Regions from separate parts of the Homo sapiens genome. Here region 2 is linked to region 1. Evidence: fine-mapped expression QTL. A gene starts in region 1. The other region holds a variant in brackets. All regions are shown on one strand. Distances are between the middles of the regions. Region 1 holds the start of MTCH1 (mitochondrial carrier 1). Region 2 has its middle 7.5 kb from the start of PI16.

The links. PIP is the estimated chance that this variant, and not a neighbour inherited with it, causes the effect. A credible set is the group of variants that fine-mapping cannot tell apart.
Region 2: its variant is the best candidate, but not a certain one, in a credible set for the expression of MTCH1 in whole blood (INTERVAL, PIP 0.69).

Annotation. Positions count from the first base shown.
Region 1 is chr6:36,984,836-36,987,848 of GRCh38, forward strand. It overlaps MTCH1 (mitochondrial carrier 1), which reads right to left and starts at 1,361. Exons shown (of 12, transcript NM_001271641.2): 1 at 1,018-1,361. The coding sequence starts at 1,338. RefSeq lists enhancers at 915-1,637, 1,756-1,965 and a silencer at 1,076-1,665.
Region 2 is chr6:36,945,896-36,948,638 of GRCh38, forward strand. It overlaps a transcript of PI16 not described here. Among named protein-coding and RNA genes, the nearest start is that of PI16, 7.5 kb to the right of the region's middle. The variant G/GAAGAAA (reference allele first, on the strand shown) is at 1,682.

The sequences.
Region 1 (3,013 bases):
CCCTACCTATCCTGCCACCTATGTCTCCACTGTCCCTTCTGCCCAATTTCAATACTCCCGTGCCCCTTCTCCTCATCTGCCCAGATACAAGCACTGTGATTCCTCTCTCTGACCCCAACTATGACTTCCATTTCCTCCTCCAAATGCGTCATCCCCCTTCCCCGCTTAAAGCCTCCTCCTAGCTCCCCTCTCTAGACAAATCGCTGCCACTCCCCTCCCCCAATGCTGGCCCTATCTGTTCCCCTCCCCCCATACGCGTCACCCTGTCCCCTCCTCCTACCAAATCCGTCGTCGCCATCAAATCCAGAGCCCCCATCTCCGGTAAACCGATAGCATTCCCCTGCAAAAGTCTTTGCCTTCGCACTCTCCCACCAAATTAAATCACAATGCAACCCAAGACCTCCGTCTCCTCTGTCCACCCCCAGTCTGGTGTCCTTCTTTCCCTCCTAAATTTCTGGCCCTGGCGCCCACTTTGTCCCCACCCCAAGACGTTTTAAATCCATCTCTATCAAATCCAGAGCCTCCGTTCCCCTCTACCCCAATTATGTGCTCCTCATTCTCTAAACACTTTGCCTGGGCCCCCAACCTTCCTCCCCATCTCTTCACCCAAACTTCTTGCCCCTCCCCCAATTCTATTGCTTCTTCCCTCGCCCCAAATTCGCTCCCTTCCCTATCCCAAGTCCATCGTCCCCACTCCTTTATCTCCCAAATATGTTTTTCCAGCCCATCGCTCCCTCCTTGGCACTCCCCCAAATCGCTTGTTCCTTCCACCCTCTCCCGTATCTGTTATTACTCTAACCCCTTGGTCTCCTTTCTGTATCCTAAAACCCGTGACCCCTGCGTTCCCAACTCCCTCACGGCTTCCCTCCCATCCCACCCACTCGGCCCCCCAAACCCGCCGTCCCCACCCCTCTCCCCAAATCCGTCGCCATTGACTGCCCGCCCCAATCCTCCAAATCCTGGCCTGTCACCTTCACATCAGCCTCCCATCTCCCTACGGCGCCTCTGGTCCCCCACCTGGATGAGCAGCTTCACGTAGAGCAGGGGATGGCTGAGCGCCGTCACGCCCGCGCCCAGTGCCACGAAAAGAGCCTCAGTGGTCGGGGCGTTGTCCCCAGACCCCAGGCCCCCTGACCCGCCATCCATCCTGCGGGCCGAGGGCTGAGCCGCAGGCCGAGGGTGGCGAGGATGTGCGCGGTGCGCGGGCGGTGGATCGCGAGCTCGAGCCTCGACCCCCGCCGCCGCTCCGCCGCGAGCTCCGGCTCCAGCTCCGGCTCCCGCCATCCCCGCGGCACCGCCGCGAGCCCAGGGCGCCACTTCCGGGTCCGAAGCTCCCATGGCGCCCGGCGGCGAGGTCACTCCCCGTCACGTGACGGGGCCACGCCCCCTCACCGGCGTCAGGGGGCGGGGCCGGGGCGCACCACTCCAGGCCGCGGGGGAGCTCGGGAGCGTGGTGCGGCGGGTGGGACACGCCGGATGTGGCTCCCCGGCCGGTTGGAGGCCTAGCAGGACACTGGGCTGCGGGCCGGGGGTCAATGGTGGCGGGCAGCCGGGGCCCCGGGCTCGGGAGCTGTGGCGGCAGCCGCAGGCCGGGGCGCTCCCCCGGGATGCCCAGAGCACGCGGGGGCGGGGTTCGGCGCCTCTGGCTGCCAGACGTCCCCAATATGGTCTGAGGCGCTTCCAAGCCACCTCCCTGGCTTCGGGAGTTTTCTCTGCAGTTCTCTGCCCGCCCCTTTGCGGCCCAGATCCCAGTCGCCGCGGCCTGCGTGGAACTCTGCGCGAGCTGAATCTCCTGCTGCAGGACGAGCCCCGACCCCGAGCCCGATCCCCTCCGCGGTCCCAGCCTCTTTGTCCGATCGCATTTTCCATCTCCTCTGCCAGGAATGCTCTCCCAACCAGAGCAAATCCAGATGTCCCCTCGGCGACTGTGGGCACCCTCCCCAGCTGTGGAGCCTTCGCACGCCTTCCTCAGAGTCCGTGGTTGTAAAATTTGTTTTGCTCTAAAGTATTTGACTGTCTCCCTCACTAGATCCTGAGGGTTTTAGTGAGTGCCTCAGTGTGAGCACATGCAGGCACTGCTAGGCGCCTGTAGTTGATTCTTAGTTAATACAAGTGAATAATCACAACTAGACCTTAAATTGCAGGGACTATGTGACAGGCACTTTTTAAAATGCTTTATACGTGTTGATTTAAGTGTAATCGTCACAAGAACCCTGCGAGGAAGATAGGACAGCAAGTGCCCTGTTCCTGTTTGTAAACGTGCCCGACACTCTGCAACAACACCTACAACAGAACCGTGCTAGTTTTGGGGGTTCGCAATAAAAGTTTCTGTTTGAACGGATCCTAGAGTGTGCAGGGACACAGCAATGGAAGACCTGGTCCCTTTGTCTGTACTTAGTCTATAGCCAGTTCATTGTGAGAAATTTCTTTAGATCGACACCTGCCACTGTTAGTCCGGGTTTCCCAGTCTGTCCTTTCTAACTCCCTTCCTGCCTTACCCCCTAAAAAGCTACCTCCCCTCTTCCCACTCCTGATAATGAACACTATGTACTTTCCACGTTCAAAGCATGCCACACTCCCTCTCTCCCTCACCTTGGCCTCCCTAACCCAGGCTTGTCCTAGTGAAATCACTTGCAAAGCCTGCTAACCCTTTCAACTTGCTGTGTTTTCTCCATCAAACACAATTTTCATCAAACATCCCCCAGGAGCACCTTAAATGACTTCCTTTTGCCTAGGTTCTGATTTAGCTTTCTCAATAAGGACCTCAAAGTCAAGTTCCTAGTGCCACACTAACTCTCTACCCAGAAGAGGCGATAGGTTTTAGTTTGGGGGTGGGGGGTGGGGGTAGGGGAGGATGATTTACTTCCCCATCCTTCTGAAACTTCCTCACAGGAACCTTTTCCTTCTTTGGGCTTTTCGTCCCCATTTTTCTCCAACTGTCTGTTTTTCTTTCTGAACTTGGCTGTTCACCGTTGAGCCTTTTACTCTGCCTTACATGGTCACCTAACTTTGG
Region 2 (2,743 bases), 39 kb before region 1:
TTGGTCTCAAAAAAAAATAATAAAATAAATAAATAATAAAAATGAAATGAAAAGCAGATACATGAAATACAAGCCCAACTTTTAAATCATAGATTCAACAGGCAGAAAACAACCATGTCCAATTGCTGTAAGAGTTTCTAAACATTTACTCTCATTTTCTGGGCCTGTTGTGCTGAAAAACAGTGGCGAATCTCTGGCAGACCAGCACCGGGCCGTGGACCACACTTTGAGTGGCTGTGGACCACCTGCTCAGACGAGAAGCAAATGCCAGAGATGGAATTATTTTTTTTTCCTTTTTGGCTTATTTTTTTGTTATGGAGTTATACTGCTGTTCAAAATAAAACTTGATTTAAAATATACAGAAATAATAATACAGAAGAAAATCTATTTTCCCCAAGTCTGGGTTTATGGATAAAACACACCGTCTACTCTGATGCTGCCTTCTCTTTCTCCCTCTCACCCTCCCCTAACTTCACCTCTTCCATTCCTCTCTCTCCTCCATGTGCTTGCCTTAACTGCCCTCTTTTCCTAGTGGCAGGTCCCTGGCTCTGGTCCCACCACTTTGTCACTATTCCAGACCCTCCCCGACCTATACTGGGGAAATCACTTACCTTTCTGAGCATCAGTCTCCTTATGCGGGGTGACAGTGAGACTCACCTTGGAGAGCTATCCTGTGAGGAGTGGGTGAGGTCACTCAAATGGGAGAAGCTCTGTGAACCACGTATAAGTGTGCACACGCAGAGTGGACTCTGTCTGCACACCTGGGTCCCCACATGCGCTGGCTGGCTCTGGTCAGCCTCCCAGTCTTCATTCCCATCTCACCCAACCCTCTCAGGCAAGCCAGGTGTCTCTGCTTCCAACCAAATGCCCTTCCCAGGAGGCCTCCCCAGCCCACATCCTGGCAACACTCAACCAGTGCCCCTGTCCCTCAGAGAGGGGTGTGTCCTCCCTTTCTACCTAGGAGCTCTCCCAGGCCAAGGCAGTCCTCCCCAGGGTAAAAGCCAAGTCAGGTTGCTGTATTTTTTTTCTTTGCTATAGCCTCAGGCTATGCAAACTTTTCCACCTGTTATATATAACAGGTGGAAGATATATAATAACAAATACAGTAAGTTCTCACTTAAGTTGCTGATAGACTCTTGGAAACTGCAACTTTAAGGGAAACAAAACCAATTTTACCATAGGCTAATTGATATAAATGAATAGAATTCCTGTGACATATTTCTGGTGACAAAAACATCACCAAACTTCTAAAGATCAAAACACTTCTAATATTAAACACTGAAATGAATGTAAGCTATACATACATTTAAGAAAAATTAAGAAAAACAAGATAATTAGGCCAGGTGCACTGGCTTACGCCTGTAATCCCAGCACTTTGCAAGGCCCAGGTGGGTGGATCACCTGAGGTCAGGAGTTCGAGACCGGCCTGGCCATCTTGGTGAAACCTCATCTCTACTAAAAATACAAAAGTTAGCTGACTGTGGTGGTGGGCACCTGTAATCCAGCTACTCAGGAGGCTGAGGCACAAGAATCACTTGAACCCAGGAGGTGGCGGTTGCAGTGAGCTGAGATTGTGCCACTGCACTCCAGCCTGGGTGACAGAGCGAGACACTCTCTCGAAAGAAAGAAAGAAAGAGAGAGAGAGAGAGAGAGAAAGAAAAAAGAAAGAAAGAGAAAGAAA[G/GAAGAAA]AAGAAAGAAAGAAAAACAAGATAATTATTTACCCAATTATTCCAGTTCAGGGTCGTGGGTGGCTGGAGCCCATCCTGGCAGCTCAGGATGCCAGGTGGGAACCTACCCTGGACAGGACATGGTGCTCACACACCCACACTCACTCGTGCTGGGACCATGCAGACTCACCAATGAGCCTAGCGTGCACAGCTTTGGGACATGGGAGAAAACCCACGCAGACGTGGGGAGAATGCAAACACCACGCAGACAGTGGCCCCTGCAGGAATCGAATTTTTCTCTTACCAATGTCATGACAAAAAGACATGGAATGAAATGACGTTATTCAAGGACCTGCTGTATGTGAATACTGGCTAACTCAATGAGCACTTACTATGTTCCAGGGATGATCACAGGCCCTACCCATGTACTAACTCATTTAATGCTCACAACCATCCTAGGAGGTAGGTTCTGTTCTAAGCCCCAGTGTACAGATGTGGAAACAGGCCAGTGAGCAGAGAAATCACCTGCCCCAGGCCACCCAGCCGGTAAGCCCCACACTCTCATCCACAACACTGCCTGTGGTTGCTGGTTGGTTTCCTGCTGTTGTTCACCCAGCTCAGCGCCTGGCACAATGAGAGGCTCTGTAAGCCTTTGTTGAGTGAATGAATGCTGCCCATTGTCCTGCATCTACGGAGCTGTTTTCCTTGCTATTGAAGGGGCATGACTGGAGGCAGAGGCCACAGAGATGACCACACCAGGGCAACCTGTAGTGCCAGTGCCTGGTTCCACCCGGGGGGCATCTGAGAACTGTGTCCTTCCATTCCTGAGTCCAGCACTTCCCAGGCCAGGTCAGCACTTTAATTCCTTGGGAAGTCTGTTTTTATTTTATTTTATTCATTTTAATGTTTTAAAAGTTTTTAGAAATAGAGAAAGGGTCTCACTTTGTTGCCTAGGCTGGTCTCAAAGTTCTGGGCTCAAGCAATCGCCCACCTCCACCTTCCAAAGTGCTGGGATTACAAGCCTGAGCCACCACGCCCAGCTCTGTGTTTCTTTCTTTTTTTTTTTCCTTCCTTCCTCCTTCC